4 linked regions of the Homo sapiens genome follow. The protein of the gene in region 1 interacts with the protein of each later gene in a pairwise test. Each region holds a gene or a part of one and is shown in the gene's direction. Other genes may lie near its edges.

Evidence for each region.
Region 2: the proteins of BRAP (region 1) and FAM184A interact in a two-hybrid assay, tested with the Homo sapiens proteins (one study listed by BioGRID and IntAct).
Region 3: the proteins of BRAP (region 1) and SHCBP1L interact in a two-hybrid assay, tested with the Homo sapiens proteins (one study listed by BioGRID and IntAct).
Region 4: the proteins of BRAP (region 1) and ZNF479 interact in a two-hybrid assay, tested with the Homo sapiens proteins (one study listed by BioGRID and IntAct).

Annotation. Positions count from the first base shown.
Region 1 is NC_000012.12:111,641,630-111,647,975, reverse strand, and holds the end of BRAP (BRCA1-associated protein), read left to right. Parts: intron 1-3,413; coding exon 3,414-3,777; 3' UTR 3,778-5,830; downstream 5,831-6,346. UniProt on the Homo sapiens protein: Negatively regulates MAP kinase activation by limiting the formation of Raf/MEK complexes probably by inactivation of the KSR1 scaffold protein.
Region 2 is NC_000006.12:119,019,654-119,026,688, reverse strand, and holds part of FAM184A (protein FAM184A), read left to right. Parts: intron 1-1,875; coding exon 1,876-2,730; intron 2,731-3,608; coding exon 3,609-3,744; intron 3,745-6,529; coding exon 6,530-6,711; intron 6,712-7,035.
Region 3 is NC_000001.11:182,950,152-182,957,142, reverse strand, and holds the start of SHCBP1L (testicular spindle-associated protein SHCBP1L), read left to right. Parts: upstream 1-3,976; 5' UTR 3,977-4,009; coding exon 4,010-4,414; intron 4,415-5,153; exon of another isoform or gene 5,154-5,158; coding exon of another isoform or gene 5,159-5,206; intron 5,207-5,675; coding exon 5,676-5,825; intron 5,826-6,991. UniProt on the Homo sapiens protein: Testis-specific spindle-associated factor that plays a role in spermatogenesis. In association with HSPA2, participates in the maintenance of spindle integrity during meiosis in male germ cells.
Region 4 is NC_000007.14:57,117,144-57,122,439, reverse strand, and holds the end of ZNF479 (zinc finger protein 479), read left to right. Parts: intron 1-1,287; coding exon 1,288-2,600; 3' UTR 2,601-4,764; downstream 4,765-5,296. UniProt on the Homo sapiens protein: May be involved in transcriptional regulation.

The DNA of each region.
Region 1 (6,346 bases):
CCACCTCAGCCTCCCAAGTAACTGGACTACAGCTGTGCACCACCACCCCTGGCTAATTTTTTTTTCTTTTTTTCTTTTTTTTTTTGAGACGGAGTTTCGCTCTTGTTGCCCAGGCTGCAATGGTGTGATCTCGGCTCACTGCAACATCTGCCTCCGGGGTTCAAGCAATTCTCCTGCCTCAGCCTCCCAAGTAGCTGGAATTACAGGCATGCACCACCATGCGTGGCTAATTTTGTATTTTTAGTAGAAACAGGGTTTCTCCATGTTGGTCAGTCTGGTCTCAAACTCCCGACCTCAGGTGATCCGCCTGCTAAAGTGCTGGTTTTACAGGCGTGAGCCACCGTGCTTGGCCTCTGGCTAATTTTTTGCAGAGACTGTTTTACCATTACAGGCATGGGCCACCACACCCTGCAAAAACTGGAAGTTCTTTTTCACCCTCTAGATCCTGCTATCTAGTGTTAACCATTATTAACCAGTACCAGTGAATATTTCTTCTTCTAGATGTTTAGCTCTGCCCACATAAATATCTCACATGCATAATCTTTTCTCTGCAAAAATAGAATCTAGGTATTCTTTTTGATAAAATATGTTTTTGGATTTTTTTTCATACTAGCACATCTAAATCTATCCTGATCTTTGTAACATCTGCATGCTGTTTAATTGTATGGATGTACTATAATGATTTCTGTTGTGGTGGTTGTTGTTGAAATAAGGTCTTGCTGTGTTGCCTAGGCCAGAGTACAGTGGCGTAATCATAGTTCACTGCAACCTCCAGCTACTGGGCTCAAGTGGTCCTCCTAGTCTGAGCTTCCTGAGTAGCTAGGACTACAGGTGTGTGCTACCATGTCTGCCCAATTGAAAATTTTTTTGTAGAGACGGGGTCTTGCCATATTGCCCAGGCTGGTTTTGAACTCTTAGCCTCAAGTGATCCTCCTCCTTGATCCTGTCTTGGCCTCCAAAAATGCTAGGATTATAGGCATGAGCCCTGCACCTGGCCTGCATAATGATTTTGACCAGGTTCCTATTGATTGTGTCAAGTTGTGTCAAATCTCACACTACTATAAGCAATACTGTAATGAGCATCTTCCTCCATGTCTCTTTTTACCTAATCCTGAGTATATCTATTCTATGGTATAAATTCCTAGAAGTAAAATAGCTGTGTCAAAGGGCATGCAAATTTTTTGTTTTTATTTATTTATTTTTGAGACGGAATCTTGCTCTGTCACACAGGCTGGAGTGCAGTGGCACGATCTCGACTCACTGCAGCCTCCGCCTCTAGGGTTCAAGCAGTTCTCCTGCCTCACCCTCCCGAGTAGCTGGGATTACAGGCACACGCTACCACACCCGGCTAATTTTTGTATTTTTAGTAGAAACGGAGCTTCACCATGTTGGCCAGGCTGATGTTGAACTCCTGATCTCGTGATCCACCCTCCTCGGCCTCCCAAAGTGCTGGGATAACAGGCGTGAGCCACCGTGCCTGGCCCAAATTTTTTGTTTTTATAGATATTGCCAAGTTGTCTTCGAAAGAGTTTATACCAGTTCATGCTCCAGTGCTAGTGTGTAAGTGCCTCTTTTCTCATGTCTCAGCTCTTGGGTGTTCTGATGCATAAAAATAGTATCTCAAATAGTGGGGTTTTTTTGTTCGTGGTTTTTGTGTGTGAGTGTTTTTGGTTTTTGTTGTTGTTTTTTTGAGACAGGGTCTTACTCTGTCAGACAGGCTGGAGTGCAGTGATGCAATCACAGCCCACTGCAGGCTCAAATTCCTGGGCTCAAGCAGTCCTCTGCCTCAGCCTCCCAAGTAGCTGGGTCTACAAGTGCACATCACCACACCCAGCTAGTTTTTTAATTTTTCTTTTGTATAGACGGTGTCTCGCTATGTTGACCGGGCTGATTTCAAAGTGACCCTCTCACTTTTGCCTCCCATAGTGCTGGGATTACAGACATGAGCCACTCTGCTGGGTCTCAGATGGTATGGGTTGTTTGTTTGAGACAAGATCTCGTTCTGTCACTCAGGCTGGAGTGCAGTAGCATGAACACAGCTCACTGCAGCCTTGACCTGCTGGGATCAAGCAATCCTCCAGCTTCAGCCTCCTGTAAATCTGGGACCACAGGTGCACGCCACTGCACCTGGCTAAGTTTTTTGATTTTGTGTAGAGACAGGGTCTTACTTTGTTGCCCAGGCTGGTCTCGAACTCATTTCCTGTTTCATTTACTGAAGCGATCCTCTCGCCTCAGCCTCCCAGAGTGCTGGGATTCCAAGCATGAGCCAATGCACCTGGCCTCAAATGGTGGTTTCATTTGCAATTCTTTACTTATGAGTAAGACTGGACATCAAGAATAGGGCACTCCCAAGTCTAAAGCCCTTTGGTTAGAATAAGTGCCCTTTTTTTCCCCTTCAGCAAATGCAATGAAGTCAGAGTACTTGACTCTCCAAGAATGCCACTTTTCCTCATAACTTCCTTATCACAGCTATCATCTCGAAGGCACCTATTTAACCACTGACTGCAAAACAAAGAAGCAGTAGAATTTTTACCGTCAGTCACAGAATAGTTTCTGCTACTGAAAACTTTCTGATGCTTAAAAAAAAGTGTCTTAAAAGTACATTTGTGGGCTGGACGCGGTGGCTCACACCTGTAATCCCAGCACTTTGGGAGGCCAAGGTGGGTGGATCACAAGGTCAGGAGTTCCAGACCAGCCTGGCCAAGATGGTGAAACCCCGTCGCTACTAAAAATGCAAAAATTAGCTGGGCACAGTGGCAGGCACCTGTAATCCCAGCTACTTAGGAGGCTGAGGCAGGAGAATCGCTTGAACCCAAGCGGCAGAGGTTGCAGTGAGCCAAGATCACGCCACTGCATTCCAGCCTGGGCAACAGAGTGAGACTCCATCTCAAAAAATAAATAAATAAATAATACACTTGTGGACTGGCGCAGTGCCTCATGCCTGTAATCCCAGTACTTTGGAAGGCCGAGACAGGTGGATCACCTGAGGTTGGGAGTTCAAGACCAGCCTGGCCAACATGCCGAACCCCAATATCTACTCAAAATACAAAAATTAGCCAGGCATAGTGGCAGGTGCCTGTAATCCCAGCTACTTGGGAGGCTGAGGCAGGAGAATCGCTTGAACCCAGGAGGTGGAGGTTGCAGTGAGCTGAGATCGTGCCATTGCATTCCAGCCTGGGCAACAAGAGCGAAACTCCGTCTCAAAAAAAAATACACTTGTGTTAAGTAGAGCAAAATTCTTGCTTTGCATAGCTGATTGCGATGGCAGAAAACCATTCTCCCTCACGATGGGAGAAAGGGGTCTGTCCTAAAGGGATTCTGAGGTCATGGTTTCTCTGTTCAATCCCAGAGCAGAAAGGGGACTGTGTCAGCAAATGAAAAATGTGCTTTTGTCTTCCTTTGTTTTTCAAAAGGTGCACTCAGCTAAACACAAAAGTGGCCAAACTCACCAACGAGCTCAAAGAGGAGCAGGAAATGAACAAGTGTTTGCGAGCCAACCAAGTCCTCCTGCAGAACAAGCTAAAAGAGGAGGAGAGGGTGCTGAAGGAGACCTGTGACCAAAAAGATCTGCAGATCACCGAGATCCAGGAGCAGCTGCGTGACGTCATGTTCTACCTGGAGACACAGCAGAAGATCAACCATCTGCCTGCCGAGACCCGGCAGGAAATCCAGGAGGGACAGATCAACATCGCCATGGCCTCGGCCTCGAGCCCTGCCTCTTCGGGGGGCAGTGGGAAGTTGCCCTCCAGGAAGGGCCGCAGCAAGAGGGGCAAGTGACCTTCAGAGCAACAGACATCCCTGAGACTGTTCTCCCTGACACTGTGAGAGTGTGCTGGGACCTTCAGCTAAATGTGAGGGTGGGCCCTAATAAGTACAAGTGAGGATCAAGCCACAGTTGTTTGGCTCTTTCATTTGCTAGTGTGTGATGTAGTGAATGTAAAGGGTGCTGACTGGAGAGCTGATAGAAAGGCGCTGCGTTCGAAAAGGTCTTAAGAGTTCACTAACCTCACATTCTAATGACCATTTTGCCTTCCTGCTTGGTAGAAGCCCCAACTCTGCTGTGCATTTTTCCATTGTATTTATGGAGTTGGCGTATTTGACATTCAGTTCTGGGGTAGGTTTAAGATGTTAAGTTATTTCTTGTAACCTCAAAGGTAAGGTTATCTAGCACTAAAGCACCAAACCTCTCTGAGGGCATAACAGCTGCTTTAAAGAGAGGTTTCCATTGGCTATTAAGGAGTTATGAAAACTCCCTAGCAATAGTGTCATATCATTATCATCTCCCCCTTCCTCTGGGGAGTGGAAGAATTGCTTGAATGTTATCTGAAAAGAGGCCTGGTAGTAAACCAGGCCCTGGCTCTTTACCAGCAGTCATCTCTTCTTGCTCTGGGGCCAGCCAGGAAAAACAAACAACCCGGGGCACATTGGGTAGACTCAGTGTAGGAAAAATGGTGGCAGCTCCACTGTTTATTTTTGGTGACTTCGTACATCATTATGAACCGCAATTAAGGAGGAGGCTTAATGGCTGTTCCCAAACTCAAATCTCAGAGTGGGTATCCTAGCATCTAGCAAGACTGAGTGGGGAGATTTCTCATCCGTGTGAAAATGTAGAGTGAGGCCTCTGACTAGCTAATTGTGTATTTTGTTGGGTTTAGTATTTTCTAAATGTTTACAAAATATTGGGCTGCATGTTCAGGTTGCAGCTAGAGGGAGCTTGGGCAGATTTTCAATTACGCTTTCAAGATATAACCAAAAGCTGTTTCTAAATCCTAAAATTAGAATTTCAACAGAGCCCCCTTTAGAACAGTCATATAACGCTTGTGTGGGCCAACAGAGGGGCTGTGTACTCTCTCTGGAACCATAAATGTCAAATAATTTATAACCTGCAGTAATTGAGCAAACTTAAAATAAGACCTGTGTTGGAATTTAGTTTCTTGAAGAGGTAGAGGGATAGGTTAGTAAGATGTATTGTTAAACAACAGGTTTTAGTTTTTGCTTTATAATTAGCCACAGGTTTTCAAATGATCACATTTCAGAATAGGTTTTTAGCCTGTAATTAGGCCTCATCCCCTTTGACCTAAATGTCTTACATGTTACTTGTTAGCACATCAACTGTATCACTAATCACCATCTGTTTTTGTGGGATGTGCTGCAGCATTTCCCAAAAAACTTTACGTGTAATGTTGCAAAATGAATGTACTCAGACATTCTTAATTTTTACTTAGGGCAGACCAACTCTTTGAGTCTCTCTTGGACTTATATATACAGATATCTTAAGAGTGGGAATGTAAAGCATAACCTAATTCTCTTTCCTATAGAGATTCTATTTTATTTAAAATCTATTTTTACACTAGTTAGAATCCTGCTGTTTTGGCCAAGTACTTGTCTTGCATGTCTGACCTTGCAGAAGCTGGGGTGGATCATAGCATACTAATGAAGAGAATTAGAAGTAGTTTACAAAGCTCGCTCACTCCTCATTTCTCTGTGATCCCTTCTATCCAGTGGCCCCACCACCACCTGGGAAAACAGATTTTTCAGTACAGGTGGGATAAATGCTCTGAAAGGCTGTGCCCAGAGGAATGAGCAAATAGGCAAGTGTTTCCAAACTACTTGGAGGTTTACAAAAAATATGTCCCAGAAAAAAAAAAAATCTTACCAAGATACGTAAAGAAAAAAAAATTTTTTTTTAAACAGTCAAAGAGTCATGTTTGAATTTCACAAAATCACATCAGACAGAAGTTGTTTTCTTCAGGAGGGAAATGAACCACTTAATATACCCATACTACCTTGAACAATGAAATTGAATTAAAATAGCCAAACTTTGAAATTATTCTGCCCCGTGTGAAATGTGTGTCTCTGACTGACATTTGCTTGGGAGCATGTCTCTAATAATCTAAGAAAGTGTCGGCTGGGCACAGTGGCTCAGCGCCTGTAATCCCAGCACTTTGGGAGGCTGAGACGGGCGGATCATGAGGTCAGGAGATCGAGACCATCCTGGCTAACATGGTGAAACTCCGTCCCCACTAAAAATACAAAAAAAAAAATTAGCTGGGCATGGTGGCAGGCACCTGTAGTTCCAGCTACTTGGGAGGCTGAGGCAGGAGAATGGCATGAACCCGGGAGGCAGAGCTTGCAGTGAGCCGAGATTGCACCACTGCACTTCAGCCTGGGTGACAGAGCGAGACTCCATCTCAAAAAAAAAAAAAAAAAAAAAAAGTGGCCTTGATTTAAAAAGCAACGTAAAAATCAGCCCCTTGGTTGGGTGCGGTGGCTCACATCTGTAATCCCACCACTTTGGGAGGCTGAGGTGGGAGGAATGCTTGAGGTCAGGAGTTCAAGACCAGCC
Region 2 (7,035 bases), on another chromosome or scaffold:
AGTCTTATGATCTCTGTTTTAATGTTAACGTCGGTCAGTTGTGTCTAAATCCCGAAGTATAGAGTGCAGAAAAGCCCAGCATGTCCAATCCATAATGAGGCATGTCTGACCCCTCCCTTTCAGTCATGGCCTAAACTATTTTTTCAGGTTTCTTTGGGGTCCACTTGGCTAAGAGGAGGGTCCGTTCAATCGGTTGGGGGCTTAGAATTATATTTTTGGTACACTTGTTATATCACAGATCCTTTCAGTCTTTTATGGCCATTTGACTTGGTGGGCGGATATGACCCAAGGGGATGGGAATAGGAAGTCAGTCAGCTTTCTTGGCTTATAAGCTACCTTTATGAGTAAATGTGTAAATGAAGGAGTCCTGCTTGGGATCTGTGTTACCTTATTGGGAACATAATTTGGAATTTGAAATTAGGGTTTTTTAAAAACAGAATGTGAATAAGTACTTCTGTTCACATTTTTTCCTGTAGACTTTGCAAAAAGGGATAGCATGGCAAGACAGATGGGTTCCTGCCATCTCTCAATCTTTTTACCTTTGGTATGATGGCAGACTAAGCGAGTATATGGACAGGGCCACTGGATCTGGAAGACAAAGCCCTATGTGGAGAAAGTGATGCCCCTGTGTTGAGGCAGCCTTCTTGTTTCTTTTGCAAGCACAACTGCTGTCCCAGACAGTGACAGCCTATCTTTAGCGAGTGGGATCTGGAGTTACTGTGGTATTTGGAGAGCCAGCCAGTCTGCCACAGTTACCTCAGGCTGCATGAATAATTTCTCTACAAAAAATGGCAGCAGTTTTCCATCATAACTGCAGTTTCTGGTATCTGATGCTGGAATTCATTTCTAAAGCCAGAGTAATATCACATTAAAATGAGCAAATCTCCAGACACTGATTTTTAGCTGCTGGATTTTTTGATTGTACAGTGTTTACTTCTTTTCGCTTCCGGGGGAAGAAAGTGGGCTCATCTCAAAGCCTTAAATAACAGTCATGAAAATTTCACCGTGTGACCACAGTGGCATGATGGATGGCATCCGAGGAACAGAGGGAAGGAAGGAGAGTGTTACTGTGCAGGGAATTTGTTGTCATTTGAAATTAAGGTTGGGACATCTCAGTGAAATCATTAAAACCTAGGAACTAAAATGAAAATAAAGACCTGTACTCAAAACTCTGGCTTAAGGAATTGGGTTGCTTGGAGGCAGAGAGAAAATTAGCCAAAGAGTAAAACTACAGCATTTGAAATATGAAGAGAAAAAGTACAAATTGGATTTTATAAAGAGATCACTAGAAACTTGAAGAGAGAAGAGGATCAGCTTTAGAAGCAAACTATAGGGGAATTGGGAAAGGAAAGTTTAAAATTTGAAATATTTAAACAGGCCATTACAAAGATAAAAGGCTTTTGGGAAGACTTAGGGCCTAGGGCTTCTCTTCATGTGAAGCCTCTCGTATCTCTAGGACACCAATATAGGGCAGAGTCTTACTATGAGACTTTTTCTCCTGAACACCCCTTCACAGTCCCCGGTAAGCTAGATTGGGACATATGAGAACTCCTTTCTCTTAGGCCAATTGCCTCCTTTGTCCATTTCCTCTTTGCTGTTTCATTTGTAGTAAAAAATAGTCTTAAATTTGAATGTTTTAAAATTATAACTAAAAAGTCTTTAAATACAAATCTTAAGACTGTGCTAAGATAGAAATTTGCTAAGCAAATCAATCTATGAGTAAAAAAACAATTGCATCAAGATTCCATATTTAACATTAGCTGTAGCCAATATTATGTGCATAGAAAAATATCAATCCAAATGAAAGAATTGACTTCAAGTTAGAAAATAATATGGATTCACAATCCTTCTCCCTTCTTATTCAAAACCATGCAGGTAATATATGCTTTAAACACTAAAAATGATGAGCATGAATCTGCAATTCAAGCCCTCAAAGATGCTCATGAAGAAGAAATTCAACAAATTCTTGCTGAAACAAGAGAAAAAATATTGCAGTATAAAAGCAAAGTAACAGAGGAGCTAGACCTTAGAAGAAAGATTCAAGTTTTAGAATCATCATTAGAAGATCACATAAAAATGAAGCAGCAGGCTTTGACAGAATTTGAAGCTTATAAGCACAGAGTTGAGGACATGCAACTTTGTGCAGAAGCCCAGCATGTCCAACGCATAGTGACCATGTCTAGAGAAGTCGAAGAGATTAGAAGGAAATTTGAAGAAAAATTACGGAGCTTTGGACAACTTCAAGTACAGTTTGAAAAAGACAAACGATTGGCATTGGAAGACTTGCAAGCTGCTCACAGACGGGAGATACAAGAGCTATTGAAGTCACAGCAGGATCACAGTGCCTCAGTAAATAAAGGCCAGGAAAAGGCAGAGGAACTACACAGAATGGAGGTGGAGTCCCTAAACAAAATGCTTGAGGAGCTAAGACTTGAACGGAAGAAACTAATTGAGGATTATGAAGGCAAGTTGAATAAAGCTCAGTCCTTTTATGAACGTGAGCTTGATACTTTGAAAAGGTCACAGCTTTTTACAGCAGAAAGCCTACAGGCCAGCAAAGAAAAGGAAGCTGATCTTAGAAAAGAATTTCAGGGACAAGAAGCAATTTTACGAAAAACTATAGGAAAATTAAAGACAGAGTTACAGATGGTACAGGATGAAGCTGGAAGTCTTCTTGACAAATGCCAAAAGCTTCAGACGGCACTTGCCATAGCAGAGAACAATGTTCAGGTAAGTAAAGAATATTATATTCAACACATGGATTTTTTTTCTTTTAAAAATATTTGTTTTGTAGGCTGGAGAGCAGTCTGGCCCACTTAGAATCAGTGGCTTCACACCACTTAGACTTTTTTTTTTTTTTTTTTTTAACTTTTCCTGCTTTTCCTTTGTGAGAAAAATCAATGACAGGATAATTTGTATTACCCTGTAGTTGTTATTTCAGACTTTCAGATATTAGGGGCCCAAAAAGACAAGCTTAAAACCTTGTCTAATTATTGGCTAGGCACAGTGGTACACACCTGTAATCCCAGCACTTTGGGGGGCCCAGGCAGGAGGATCGCTTCAGGCCAGGTGTTAGAAACCAGCCTGGGTGAGTGAGCTTAGCGAGGTAATACGCTGTTCCTGGGGGGGGGGGCGGACAATATTGCTAATTATTTACAAAAGGATTTTAATATTGGGCTTAAAGTTTAAATACATTTTTTTCTTTTCCTTTCACTAATAATGGTTTGCCTGCTAGCTGATATTTAGAATTTGATCAAGAAATTGCTTGCTTTCTAAACCTGAATTTAATAGGGGTATTGCACAAGTCTGGGGGAAAAAAATGCCGGAAGTCCACAAGTTTTGTTTTGTTGGCTTAGAAAATTTCATAGCCATGTTTTTAATATCTGTGCAACATTAGAATGGATTAGAAAGTGTGGAATAGCCTTTCCTGATTGGGTCATGTTTATGAAAACATCAAGTTATAAATCACTAATACTTACAGATTTAAAAATTGGTATATAGTTTAGTATGACTTCTGAATAAGAGAAAGCTGACCCTTATAATTTAAATGAATTATTTAGCTTAGTATTATTCCTGCATTTTAACAATGGCTATTTAATCTTTCTTAGGTTCTTCAAAAACAGCTTGATGATGCCAAGGAGGGAGAAATGGCCCTATTAAGCAAGCACAAAGAAGTGGAAAGTGAGCTAGCAGCTGCCAGAGAACGTTTACAACAGCAAGCTTCAGATCTTGTCCTCAAAGCTAGTATGTGTGACCACAGTTTTTGATGTAATGCTTAGCTAAAATCAACACTTTATTTATTTATTTTTTTGGAGACAGAGTCTTGCTCTGTCGCCCAGACGGGAGTGCAGTGGCTCAATCTCGGCTCATTGCAACCTCTGCCTCCTGGGTTCAAGCAATTCTCCTGCCTCAGCTTCCTGAGTAGCTGGGACTACAGGTGCCCGCCACCATGCTTGGCTAATTTTTTTGTATTTTTAGTAGAGATGGAGTTTCACCGTGTTGCCCAGGCTGGTCTCGAACTCCTGAGCTCAGGCAGTCTCCCTGCCTCAGCCTCCCAAAGTGCTGGGATTACAGGCATGAGCCACCACGCTCGGCCCCAACACTTAAATGTTAATTTAAGGTAGCATTTATTTTTTCTTCTAACATTTTAAAACTATTTAGACTGTAAATAAGTTAAAGGACTCAATATGTTACTAATTACTTATAAGATACACAAATATTTTTTATTTTTAGGAATATATTTTTATAGAAAACTTGAGAGTTTTCCTTTGTGAGGAAAAATACCAATAGCAGGTAAAATACCAATAAAGTAGTCACTAAAAGAAAAACGGGCTGGGCATGGTGGCTTACACCTATAATCTCAGCACTTTGGGAGGCCAAAGTGGGCAGATCACTTGTGGCCAGAGGTTTGAGACCAGCCTGACCAACGAGGTGAAACCACATCTCTACTAAAAATAACAAAAATTAGCTGGGCATGGTGGTACACACTTGTAATTCCAGCTACTAAGGAGGCTGAGGCATGAGAATTACTTGAACCTGGTGGCAGAGGTTGCAGTGAGCCGAGATTGCGCCAGTGCACTTCAGCCTGAGCAACAGAGCAAGGCTGTATCAAAAAAAAAAAAAAAAAAAAAAAAAGAAAGAACGAAAAATGAAGCACACTTTTCAAGAGGTGTTGTCCTTTAAAAATATACATTTTATTTTATTTTATTTTTTGAGACAAGGTCTTGTTCTGTCACCTAGACTGGAGTGCAGTGGCATGAACACAACTCACTGTAGCCTGGACTTCCTGGGCTCAAGTGATCCTCCCACTTCAGCTTCCTGAGTAGCTGGGACCACAGGCATGCACCACCTTGGCTGGCTAATTTTTTAATTTTTTGTAAAGACGGGGTCTTGCCATGTTGCCTAGGGTGACCTCAAACTCCTGGGCTCTAGCAGTTCTCCCACCTTGGCCTCCCAAAGTGCTGGGATTTCAGGTGTGAGCCACCATGCCAGCATTTATTTAGTTTTTAGAGATGGGATCTTGTTCTGTTGCTCAGGCTTGAGTGCAGTGGCCTGATCATAGCTCACTGCAGCCTAAAACTCCTGGGCTTAAGTAATCCTCTTGCCTTAGCCTTCCCAGTAGCTGGGACTCTAGGTATGCCACGGGCTAACTTTTTTAAAGATGAGGTCTCACTGAAAAAATACACATTTTAAAGTGCTCAAATTAGTTGAAGTTTGTAAATTACAGCAGTTCATTTCTTAGGGCTTGTTACTAAGGTTCATTTTTACATACTAAAGCTGACTTGCCTATTTCTCAAGTGGCTGGTATGCTTTTTCACAACCATTACTGGAGGAAGTGGGTGACTTGTGTCAGTTCTGAAGTTATATTTTGTCTAAGTGTTTAGTGTGCCCAGGAAGGCTGTTTGAGCTGGTTCTTTGAGGATCTCATTTGATTTTGATTGGCTTATCAGTGAATCTCAGATTTTCCTTCCTCTAAAATAGTTGTTTTTAATAGCCTTTAGTGCACATTGGAGTGACCTGAAGGGTTTGTGAAACTACAGATGCTGGGCCCCACCCTCAGAGTTTCTGATTCACTTTTAGGTCTGGGGTGGGTCACATTTCTAACCAGAGTTCCCAGGTGATGCTGGTGATGCTGGTCCTGGGTACTTTGAGAACCTCTGCCTTAAACTATCCTTTCTATGAGACCTTTTTCTTCACTCACTTTTCATCTCTCTGTCTCTCCTCATTTTTCTCCACCTTCCCTGCTTTTTGCTGTCATTTAAGAGATTCTTTCATAACCTTGCTGTCTTTATCTGTGTCTTACATCACCTTAGTTGTTGGTTGGTTGGTTGTTTTTATTTGGAGATGAGGTCTCGCTATGTTGCAGGACATAGTGCAGTGGCTGTTACAGGTGCAGTCATAGCTCACTGCAACCTTGAACTCCTGGGCTCAAACAATCCTCCCATCTCAACCTCCCAAGTAGCTGGAACTACAAGCTCCACTTTAGGTCTTTATCTGGCCTCTTGCCTGAAACAAATTCAATTTCAACCAAACTGCTATCTGCCATCTTTGTTTCCTACATACAAACTTCTTCCTTTTTATGTTAGAATTTGAAAATAAATTAGAAAAGAACGAATCACTCATTTTGGCGCCACAGTGTCAGTCAGTGCATCCTCTCCGTCCTTCTTTTATTCCCAGGAGACTTTCTTATGAAGCCTACTGAGGAGTTGCGCCTACTTCAACCTGTTTAGCTTGCAATCTTAAAAAAACAAAAACAAAAACAAAAAAAACCAGTAAAACGGTACGAGGTGCAGGAAGCAACATTAATCATGTGAAAATGACGTTTTAATTTAAATTATTCTAGTGCGCTAAGAAGTATTTTCATGTAAATATTTCCATTTTATGTAGTGAAGAAACAAAAGGAAAATTTGTACATGTAGACCATTTATTTTACTTAAGTATAAAGTACAGTTGTGTTATTAAATGTAAACTGTTTATCTCATAGTACAACTGATTTTTAAATTGAAGGGATTTTCTTTTTGGGGGATAGGTCATATTGGAATGCTTCAAGCAACTCAAATGACCCAGGAAGTTACAATTAAAGATTTAGAATCAGAAAAATCGAGAGTCAATGAGAGATTATCTCAACTTGAAGAGGAAAGAGCTTTTTTGCGAAGCAAAACCCAAAGTCTGGATGAAGAGCAGAAGCAACAGATTCTAGAACTGGAGAAGGTAAAAAGTAATGGACACTCCATTCCCCCCGAAAGAGTTCCGTTTTTCTCTTTTTCACATTTGAAGTATTTGGAGTATTTCTTGCTACTCCCCAGTAACAATACATTTCCTACTTTAGTAGTTATTTTTGGTTCTAATTTTGAGGAAATGGGTATATAGCTAGACTATCCTATGCTGTATGTATGTTCAAAATATGTGGGTAACAATCTATATAATATAAAAACTTTAAGACATTTCAACCTATTTCAAGCCAGAAATTGAATAAACTCTTATTTCAGTGGAGTGTATACTTATAATCATTATTCGTTTTCTATTAATGAAATA
Region 3 (6,991 bases), on another chromosome or scaffold:
CACCCAACTAGTGAGCATAGTACCAAATACATAGTTTTTCAAGTCTTGCCCCCCTCCTTCTCTCCTCCTTTTTGGAGTCCCCAGTTACTGTTGTTCCCTTCTTTGTGTTCACATGTACCCAGTGTTTAGCTCCCACTTATAAGTGAGAACATGGTTTTCTGCTTCTGTGTTAATTTGCTTAGGATAAAGCCTTCCACCTGCATCCATGTTACTGCAAAAATCTTGTGCCTTTTCACAGCTGTATAGTATTCCATGGTGTATATGTACTACATTTTCTTAATCCAATCCACTACTGTTGGGCACCTGGGTTGATTCCATATCTTTGCTATTGTGAAGTGCTCCAATGGACATACAAGTGCATGTGTCTTTTTGGTAGAATTATTTATTTTCCTTTGGATATATACCCAGGAATGGGATTGCTGGGCTGAATGGTAATTCTATTTGTAGTTCTTTGAAAAATCTCCAAACTGCTTTCCACAGTGGCTGAACTAATTTACACTCCCACCAACAGTGTGTAAACCTTCCTCTTTGCTCCACAATCTCACCAGCGTCTGTGAATTTCTGACTTTTTAGTAATAGCCATTCTGACTGGTGTGAGATGGTAATGGTATCTCATTGTGAAATTCCCTATATTTTTATATGATTCTCAGGGGGTATCATGGGTCTGAATACTGACTCATGCCCTGGGCATGACTTCCACATTGCAGAATTGAGAAGTTGACCCAGAAATGCATTTCAGGCTGAGCAGACAATTATCAGAGGAGCTGGCTAGACCACAGCTGTGGTCAGATGTGTCATAGGGACCATGGCCTTTCTGTAGACTCATGGTCAGAGGTGGAGAGGAGCTGTGAACCTTCTTGTGAAAAAAGTCAAGGTGAAAGCTGCCCCGTGGTGATGGGCGCTGGGCCTCACCTACCACATACTGTGCATCTCCTGGCCTGCTGGGCTCAGTCCCCACCCCACTGCTTGGCACTCGACTGGCAGAATCTGAGTGATGCCTTCTGCACTCCCTGCCCTGCTCTGCCACTGGCTGTGTCTGAGCCAGAGGATCAGTGCTCAGCAGCAGACTCTCCCAAAACCCATCATCTGGGCTGAACCCAGTTCATGAATCCAAATGAAAAGCCGGTGACCATCTGTCACTGGGGAGATTCTGAGGCTGTTGAATACCAGCTGTACTTTGAAGGAAGCCTTTCTGCCATGGAGAGACCAAAACCCCCTGAATGGATTAACAAAGTTGAATTCCACATCCTACTCATGACCTTCCGCACAGCAGGGCTATACAGCTGCTTCTATCTGGCTGGGGAGCTCTGGTCGGAGCCCAGTGACTCTGGATCTGGTGGTAACAGGAGGGAAGATCCAGCCGCACACAGTGCAGATATGGGAATGTCCAGGCGGAGTTCCCCATTGGTCCTGTGACCACAACCCACAGAGGGACATACCGATGTTTTGGCTCCTATAACAACCATGTGTGGTCTTTCCCCAGTGAACTGGCAAAGCTCCTGATCATAGGTGACATTGAGAACACCAGCAGACCCCACCTCTTCTGGCTCTTGGGACACCTACCTTTTAACCAGAGACGGGACTCCAGAAAGACTGTGCCCTCTGAGACCACACTGCCCAGAATCTCCTTCAGATGGGCCTAGCTTTCCTTGTCCTGGTGACTCTGGTGTGATTCCTAGTTGAAGACTGGCTCAGCAGGAAGAGGACTAGAGGGCGAGCCAACAGAGCTTCCACTTGGGATTGCGGCAGAAGGTTGAGAACACAAAGACCCCTTGAAGAATGACCAAGAAACGCAGTGGCCATGGGTGGAACTGAAAGCCGATCTTGAGCCTGGGCATTGGGAGCTCTGTGTTGGGAGAAGGGAGTCATTGTAGGAAAAAGGGACAGTGGTATTCCATTTGTCAAAGCATCCTGGAGGAGACAGGAGGTGGGAGAAACAAGCTAAATTTCTTTGGGAGGCAAAAAAAAAGAAAAAAGTTGTTTTAAAAACTCAGCTTAAGTATCCCTTCTTTGGAGAAGAAAGGTCCTTTTCTCCTACAATGTGGAATATATGTGTATATATATACACACACACACACACACACACACGCATATATATACACACATAAATAAATACAAATTATTTGTGTGTATATAAATATATATATGTATGTATTTATGTGTATTTACATAAATAAAAGCATGGTCCTTACCAAACACAATCATCTACTGACCCATCTGTATCTTTCACTAGGATTACGAGGGCAGGGATTTGGTCTTTTACCTCTATAACTGTGGCATCTACGCATTGTGTGGCATGTAACAGATTTCTAACAAGTATTTGCCTTTTGGAGGAAAAGGGAGCTGTTGCTGTTTTTAAACTTTGGCCCAGGACAGGTGGTCTTTATTATTCAGAACCTAAGAATTAAAAAACCCATAATTTATCAAAAACAAACTTTTGAAGAAACACTAGAGTAAAACATTTGTGTGTGTGTGTGTGAGTGAAATATGCAGTTAGTATTGTTATAAACAAAGTCCAGGACTCAACGAAAGGAATAAAGTAAGAATAGAATTGAAACATGATGCATGTTGTAATTATTCCCTAAACTACAGTAACATGATGTTAATTTTTTTTTTTTTTTTTTTTTTGAGACGGAGTCCCGCTCTTTAGCCTAGGCCGGATTGCAGTGGCGCAATCTCGGCTCACTGCAAGCTCCGCCTCCCAGGTTCACGCCATTCTCCTGCCTCAGCCTCCCGAGTAGCTGGGACTACAGGCGCCCGCCACTGCGCCCGGCTAATTTTTTGTATTTTTAGTAGAGACGGGGTTTCACCGTGTTAGCCAAGATGGTCTCGATCTCCTGACCTTGTGATCCGCCCGCCTCGGCCTCCCAAAGCGCTGGGATTACAGGCGTGAGCCACCGCGCCCAGCCACATGATGTTAATATTTTCCTCAAAATAAACTCAGAATTTAACATAGTGTTCTTCCAGACGAGTGTGAAGGAAGGCAGGTGTTTTCCCAATGCTGTTCTCCTTGGGAGCTGTCAGCTTCAGTGCAGTATTTCACAGCTAGACTGTGAACAAACGTTAATTCCAATTGGCTCAATATACATTCAACAGTAAAATACCAGAAGTGAGTGGTCTCTGTTGTTCTCCAAAATGTATGATCTGGAACAGACTTTTATCGTGAAAGTGTTCATAGTTTGCACACATCACTCCCAGCTGGAAGTTGTTGTCCAGTTTAACAGTTATATAATATAATCTTTTATGTGAGAATTTTGAATAGCACAACAGAGACAAGAAAACAGACTAACTTCTCCTTGGTATGACCACATCTTGGCAAAAAGTGAAAGTCCTATTTAAAATGTAAAGGAAATCCTATTTGGTGAACCCTGTAATAGGTGGGGGCTAAAAGGGAAATCTAGGTTGCTGGATTTGTCACTAGGGTTTCCTCTAGTAATAGCCAGAGGGTTCCAGTTAGTGTCACCTCCCAGTATGAAAATAAATTTTCTTTCAGGCTTTGTTTGTGGAGTGGTAGGTGGAGCATTTTTTTAGGTCCTGATGACCTGGAAGGTGACTCATAATCACCCTGAAACGTATGAGGACCCTAAGGAAACCTCCCCTGGGGGAGACAGAGGGCTGGGGTTAGAGCCATTGCGTTGGGCTCGTCTGGCACCTTCTGGTGTGTGCGGCACCTGGTGGGGGTTCGGCACGGAGCCGCACCCAACACTGACCCGGGCCCCCCCACCCCTGTCCTGAGCCCAGGCGCTTCGCCCTGTCCCACCTAGCTCTGAGCAGCGCCCCCCAGCACCCTGAATGCGTCCGCAGGACCCCGCGCTCTACCCGCAGGCCCCGCACCCCCTAGCTCTGGGCCGCGCCTCACATCCCTCCCAGAGCCGCAACACCCCACCCGGCGGGACGCCCTCGAGCAGCCGCTCGTTGCGGGCCTGAAGCGCAGAGCGCCTATTGGCCAGAGCGGCCGAGGGCGGGAAAAGTGGCCAACGGCTGCCTCGGCCCTCGGGCTGCTGAGGAGATGGCGTCGGGCTCCAAGGCCTCGGTGCCCGCGGACTCATTCCGCACCATCAGCCCGGACAGGCGAGGCGAGAAGTCCGCCTCCGCTGTCTCCGGGGACACGGCGGCCGCGACCACCCTGAAGGGCACCGCGATCCCAGTGCGGTCGGTGGTGGCCTCCCCTCGCCCGGTGAAGGGGAAAGCGGGCCGGGAGACGGCCAGGCTGCGGCTCCAGCGCCTGCCCGCGGCTCAGGCCGAGGACACGGGAGAGGCGGCGGCGGCGGCGGCGGAGGAGCCCCTGCTGCCAGTGCCTGAGGATGAAGAGGAGGCGCAGCCCCTGCCCCCAGTCTGCGTGTCCCGTATGAGGGGGATGTGGCGGGACGAGAAGGTGTCGCTGTATTGCGACGAAGTGCTGCAGGACTGTAAGGTGAGCGGATCCGGGACAGGAAGACTACGGTCGGAAGCTCGTCGGAACCTGGGGACAGGCATCTGGGGCTTCCCTCTTAGGCGGATGGGGATCCACAGGGCACAACGAAAACTTGCGTTTCAAAAAAGTAAATGGAGTCAACATGTATAGAGCGTTCACCTTGTTAGAGGTGCCCGCGTCCTGCCCTAGAGGAGTTAAGGTTCGAGTTTCCGACAAAATTCGTCAGGTAACGGGACAGCCCTGAGAGAGAATTTTCTGAGAGCTCCTAAAAAATGAAGATATATTGGCCTTATCATTGCACAGGCATGAATCTTGGTACCTTTATTTAACAGTTTATGTCCAAACATGAGTAAGATCACTTAGCCTTGACTTTTACACTAGAATGCTAGAAATTACTTTAAGGGTACTTCCCACTCAGCAGTCCACAATGCGGCATGATATATATGTGTGTGTATATATATATATAAATGTGTGTGTGTGTGTGTGTGTGTGTATATATATATATATATATATATATATATATATATATATATATATTTTTTTTTTTTTTTTTTTTTTTTTTTTTTTTTTTTGGAGACGGAGTTTCATTCTTGTTGCCCATGCCGGAATGCAGTGGGGCAATCTCGGCTCACACAACCTCCGCCTCCCGGTGCAAGCAATTCTCCTGCCTCAGCCTCCCGAGTAGCTGGGATTACAGGCATGAGCCACCACGCCTGGCTAATTTTGTATTTTTTTTTAGTACAGATGGGGTTTCTCCAGTTGGTCAGGCTGGACTCGAACTCCCGACCTCAGGTAATCTGCCCGCTTCGGCCTCCCAAAGTGTTGGGATTACAGGCATGAGCCACCGTGCCTGGTGGCATGACTTTCTTTTATAGAAAATACATATCTGATAAAACGGAATAGAGCAAATATTTCATGTTTCTAACCTATTTTTTTAAGTTGTAGCAGAAGAATTTGTGTACCTGCATATTCACTGCAGTGATATTTATAAAAAGTTGAAAATTAAGACATAAACAATAACTAGCTGTCTTATCTATGAATTATTCGAGTGAATAGATCTCTTTTAAGTTTAATTTTTTGTTGGTGATGTTTTCCACTAGATGCGGTTTCAGTTAAAATCTGTAATTTTCCAGGTCATTCATTATTTAAGGCTATATTGGTTCCATTTTAAAATAGAAATCAGTAAAAAAAAAAAAAACCACTTAGTTTAAAATCTATAATTTCATATATTTATATGTAGATCCATTTTTTCTCTTGTTAGGCAGAAGATGCTGATGAAGTTATGGGTAAATACCTATCAGAAAAATTAAAGTTGAAAGACAAATGGCTTGGAGTCTGGAAGACTAATCCCAGTGTATTCTTTGTGAAATATGAAGAAGCTTCTATCCCTTTTGTTGGTATATTGGTTGAGGTAAATAAATTTTATTTGATCTTTGTTCTTTTTGAATCAGTTCTTTTAAAGACTAAAATATGACTTTATTATTTGGAGATTGATACACAAGAGTTGACACATTTTTACTTCTGTTTTAAGTTTCCGAGAAAATTAATAGTGTAAAAAGAAGGTTAGGGGAATATTAGTGCCTGTAAACCATTATCATTAAATGGAATCTAGTAGTATCAGACAATATTTATTAGCCTAGTTTTTGCTCAACTAATGTAAAAATAACAAAAATGCATTTCTTATAAAATTAGTGATTCAGTCTTTAACAAACTTGGGCCTTCTTTTTCTGTCTTTTCCCTTTAATCTTCATTTATCTGAATTAAGAAGTTTAGTTCAGATGAGGAAAAAAAAAGAAATGGATCAGAAAACTACTGGGAAAATTTGAAATTTTTTTCCTTTGAAAAGTACCCTTTTTAGGGAGGCTGAGGCAGGAGAATGGTGTGAACCCAGGAGGCGGAGCTTGCAGTGAGCTGAGATCATGCCACTGCACTCCAGCCTGGGCAACAGAGTGAGACTCCGTCTCAAAAAAAAAAAGTACCCTTCTAGTATAATATCTTCCAAGCCTTTATCTGATAAGATTTTTCTTTTTTTTTTCTTTTGAAACAGAGTTTCGTCCTGTCGCCCAGGCTGGAGTGCAGTGGTGTGATCTCGGCTACTGCAACCTCTGCCTCCCCGGTTCAAGCGATTCTCCTGCCCCAGCCTCCCGAGTAGCTGGGATTACAGGCGCATGCCACCATGCCCAGCTAATTTTTTGTATCTTTGGTAGAGACGGGGTTTAACCCTGTTGGCCAGGCTGGTCTTGAACTCCTAACCTTGTGATCTTTAGCAGAGAAGGGGTTTCACCATGTTGGCCAGACTGGTCTCGAACTCCTGGCCTCGTGATCTGCCTGACTCAGCCTCCCAAAGTGCTGGGATTACAGGCATGAGTCACTGCACCCGGCCCTAATAAGATTTTTCTTTGTTAGGCCTGTAGGCTAAACATTGTGGCATGTTTGATTCTGTTAAAGGTCAATTATCCTTATATAGAAATTAATATTTATAACCACAAATGATACCCTTACCCCAGATAGTTAGTTTAAATCTGTATTTTTGGATACAAGAAAAACTTATGTATGTAACTTGTTGTATTATATACT
Region 4 (5,296 bases), on another chromosome or scaffold:
CATATGATTACATATATTTTTCATCATGTTATTTTAAGTGGAAAGACCTCTTTTCAGCATTTTATTTAGGGCACATACAATGATTATGTGCCAGCATTTATTCATTCTGGAAGAGTTTTATTTTTCTTTATGTTGTAGTACATTTTTCTGGTTTTATTATTCTCACCATGAAAATTTTTTTCAGCCTTTGACCATTTTACACAGTTCTTTTCTGACCTGCAAGGTTTCTGTTTACAAATTCACTGGCTGTCTCAGAGGACTATGCTTATAAATAATACCTCACTTTTATCTTGCAGCTCCCAAGATTATCTTCTGGTTTGTGACTTTTGAAACTTTGCTTAAATTTGTGTTGCGGATCTTTTTGTGTATATCCTAGTTTGTTTGTTTAGCTTCTTCATTTTTTACATACTTTTTTCTTACTTTAAAATTTTTTCAGTTATTCTTTTTTACCTCCACCTTGTTTATTTTTATTATTGCAAGTTTTGTTGGTATTCTTATTTTTCTTATTTTATTTGGGTGTCTGGTTTTCCATTTTTCTCATTGAGCATAATATGGATTATCTTAAATTTTAAAAATCAAGATCTACATCTTTGTTTTTATAGTTGCTTTTTCAAAATTTTTGATTTTTTTGATTGGACCATGTTATCCTCATGTTTTATATACATTGTAATCTTTGTTTGAGATTTAGACACTAACATAAAACTACCTTTCATGATCTTTATAATGCAGCTCCTTCCTGTCATAGCATGACACCAATTGTCTTTGGTAGAGATTCTGGGATTCTCACAAACATGTTCTCAGGATGTGTTTTGTCTGCAATTTGTATTTATTTTTCAATTAAAAGACTTCTTCATATTTCTTCTTAGTGGTCAGTAACTACGTTCTACACCTATCTTCTGCCCATCATACTGCAGTCTTTCTGCAGTTGTAACATTCACTTTTGAGCTCAGAAGACTTAAAGCTGTTATTAAAGGCACTATGTTCTTCTACTGGGCATGAGGAAGGGCTGTGTTGGGTAAATGTAGCAGACTTTTCTTTTCTCTCTATATGGCTCTGGACATCATGCTCACATGGTGCACACACTTACTTTATTTATAAATTTCCAACAAAGGTATTTTGATCACTATGATTTTGTTACATTTATACATCTATGAAGGAATTATGGCCTGTGGTATTTTGATATGGCATTTTGCTAATGTACCTTGTGTAATTTTATATATTTCATGTGTAGAATATATTTATATGAGTCCAGAAAGTGGAGTAACTTGTGCTTTTTGTGTCTTTCAGTTACGCGTTCCCATTTCACCCAAGACCTTCAGCCAGAGCAGGGCATCAAAGATTCACTCCAAAAAGTAATACCAAGAACATATGGAAAATGTGGACATGAGAAATTACAATTTAAAAAATGCTGTAAAAGTGTGGGTGAATATGAGGTGCACAAGGGAGGTTATAGTGAAGTTAACCAATGTTTGTCAACTACCCAAAACAAAATATTTCAGACTCATAAATATGTCAAAGTCTTTGGTAAATTTTCAAATTCCAATAGAGATAAAACAAGATATACTGGAAATAAACATTTCAAATGTAACAAATATGGCAAATCATTTTGCATGCTTTCACACCTAAATCAACATCAGGTAATTCATACTAGGGAGAAGTCCTACAAATGCAAAGAATGTGGCAAATCCTTTAACTGCTCCTCAAACCATACTACACATAAAATAATTCATACTGGAGAGAAACCATATAGATGTGAGGAATGTGGCAAAGCCTTTAGCTGGTCTGCAAACCTTACTAGACATAAGAGAACTCATACTGGAGAGAAACCCTACACGTGTGAAGAATGTGGCCAAGCCTTTAGGCGCTCCTCAGCACTTACTAACCACAAGAGAATTCATACTGGAGAGAGACCCTACAAATGTGAAGAATGTGGCAAAGCCTTTAGCGTATCCTCAACCCTCACTGACCACAAGAGAATTCATACTGGAGAGAAACCCTGCAGGTGTGAGGAATGTGGCAAAGCCTTTAGCTGGTCCTCAAACCTTACTAGACATAAGAGAATTCATACTAGAGAGAAACCCTATGCCTGTGAAGAATGTGGCCAAGCCTTTAGCTTATCCTCGAACCTTATGAGACATAGGAGAATTCATACTGGAGAGAAACCCTACACATGTGAAGAATGTGGCCAAGACTTTAGGCGCTCCTCAGCACTTACTATCCACAAGAGAATTCATACTGGAGAGAGACCCTACAAATGTGAAGAGTGTGGCAAAGTCTTTAGCTTATCCTCAACCCTCACTGACCACAAGAGAATTCATACTGGAGAGAGACCCTACAAATGTGAAGAATGTGGCAAAGCCTTTAGCTTATCCTCAACCCTCACTGACCACAAGAGAATTCATACTGGAGAGAGACCCTACACATGTGAAGAATGTGGCAAAGCCTTTAATTGCTCCTCAACCCTTATGCAACATAAGAGAATTCATACTGGAGAGAAACCCTACAAATGTGAAGAATGTGAGCAAGCTTTTAAGTGGCATTCAAGTCTTGCTAAACATAAGATAATTCACACTGGAGAGAAACCCTACAAATGTGAATAATATGGCAAAGTCCACCCTCAGGCCTTATAATACATAAAATAATTTACACTGGAAAAAAACACTACAAATGTAGAGAATGTGGCCAAGCCTTTAACCAGTTCCAAACCTTAATTGAATGTAAGAGAATTCATATTGGACAGAAATTTTATAAATGTAAAAAAATGTAACAAAGCCTTTAACCAACCCTCAAACCTTAATAAACCTAAGAGAATTTATTTTAAAAAAATTTTTTTGAGTTGGAGTCTCCCTGTGTCACCCAGGCTGGAGTGCAGTGTCATGATCTCAGCTCACTGTAACCTCTGCCTTCCGGGTTCAAGCGATTCTCCTGCCTCAGCCTCCTGAGTAGCTGGGATTACAGGCGTGTGCCACCACACTGGCTGATTTGTGTATTTTTAGTAGAGATAGAGTTTCACCATGTTGGCCAGGATGGTCTTGAACTCCTGACCTCAGGTGATCCACCTTTGTCAGCCTCCCAAAGCCTAAGAGAACTTATATTACAGAGACCCTAGAAACATAAAAAAAGTGACAAAACCTTTAAGCACATCTCAGGCCTTACATATTATCTGATCATTCATTCTAGAGAGAAACTCTACAAAAGCAAAGAATGTGGTAAAGCTGTTAACTAGTCTTGAACCCTTATTATACATAAGAGAATTAATACTGAAGAGAAACCCTACAATAAGGAATATGGTAATGTCTTTAAAAAGTCCTCAAACCTGAATAAATGTAAGATAATTGATATTGGAGAGAAACCCTGCAATTGCAGAAAAAAATGTGGCAAACCCTTTAACTGGTTCTCCATGCTTACTCACTAAAAAATTTTATACTGGAGAGAAACTCTGCTTACATAAAAATGTGACAGAGCATTTAAGCACACCTCAAACTTTTCTAAAAAAGAGAAATCATACTGGTGAGAAACTCTAGAAATGTGTTAAATGTGGCAAGGACTTTAAATGGTAGTCACACGTTATGGTAGGTAAGATAGTTTATACTGAAGAAGACTCCTACAAATATGAAGAATGTGGCAAAACTTTTAACAAATTCTCACACCTTATGGTACAGGAAAGCATTTATACTAGAGAAAAATTGTACAAAGAATGTGAAAAACCATTAATATCAGGTCACATCTTACTCAATATCAGAAAGTTTATACTTAATAAAGGGATTATAGGTCAGGTGTGTTGGCTCATGCCTATAATTCCAGCACTTTGGGAGACCAAGGTCGGTGGATCATGAGGTCAGGAGTTCAAGACCAGCCTGGCCAACATGGTGAAACTCCATCTCTACTAAAAATAGAAAAACTAGCTGGGTGTGGTGGCGTGCACTTGTAATCCCAGCTACTTGGCAGGCAGAGGTAGGAGAATTGCTTGAACCGGGGAGGCAGAGGTTGCAGTGAGCTGAGATAGAGCCACTACACTACAGCCTGGGTGACAGAGCAAGACTCTGTCTCAAAAAAAAAATTATAAATGTGATTACTGTAAAAAGACCTTTTGGAAAATATAGGCCTTTAAAGTAAAGACCAGTTATTCTGAAGACAAACATACAAACTTAAAGAGGATTGCTGTACCTTTACTTCCATTACAGATTTTATTGTACACATTTTATATTAAAGGAAAAATTTGAAGATCTGAGAAGATGCTCAAACTTTGTTGAACATTAGAGAATTTATATTGGAGAGAAAGTCTAAACATGTAATGAATGTGAAAAACATTTTTTCAAAACCTCCAGCTTAGAAAACACCAGTTTGTACTAAATATTTTTGCAGAACCAGTAAATGGGGAAAACATATTAAATCAAAAATTAAGTCTATATAAGCATCTGAGGGGTCACAGTAGAAAGAATGAAGGCACTGAAACTTCATACATTACACTAAATCAGAGGGTTGAGTGTAAAAGAGATCCAAAGCTAACACCATATACATGTTAAAGAAGTAGTTTTTTTCGAGATTCATAATTACCTTCGAGGTATGCTTCTTTCTTCTATAAAAAAATAGTTTCTGAACAGCAAATAATAATGTAACTCAAGTCTCAGATTCCGTCATGTTGACTCTTCCCATTGTTTGTGAAAGTATTTGATCAGTTGTTTCATCAGAGATAGGAGAGATTGTTTTTTATCAATTGTACGTTTATGTAATAAAATGCAATAAATTTAAAAATTTTTTAAAGATTATGTGTCAACTTAATTTTTTCATTAAACAAAGTTGTTTTTAATGTGTTAAAACTATTGTGCTTTGAATGAAGTATTAATTTGTCATCAGATTTAATGGGTCCCATTTTACTTAAGGTTCTAAGTAAAAGATGGTAACAATGTACTATTTGTTAATGTAGGGGAATGACATCTCTAGTAATCTCTTTTTTGCCAGTGTTGGTTGGTTGGTTGGTTGTTTGTTTTGAAATGGAGTCTTGCTCTGTTGCTTAGGCTGGAGTGCAGTGGCATGATGTCGGCTCACTGCAAACTTTACCTCCTGGGTCCAAGCGATTCTCCTGCCTTCAGTCTGCCAAGTAGCAGGGACTACATGCACATTCCACCACGCCTGGCTAATTTTTGTATTTTTAGTAGAGATGAGGTTTCACCATGTTGGCCAGGCTGGTCTTTAACTCCTGATCTCAGGTGATCCACCCGCCTCAGTGCCCCAAATTGGTGGGGTTACAAGCGTGGGTCACCATGCCTGTCCTGCCAGTGGTTTAAACTGCAAA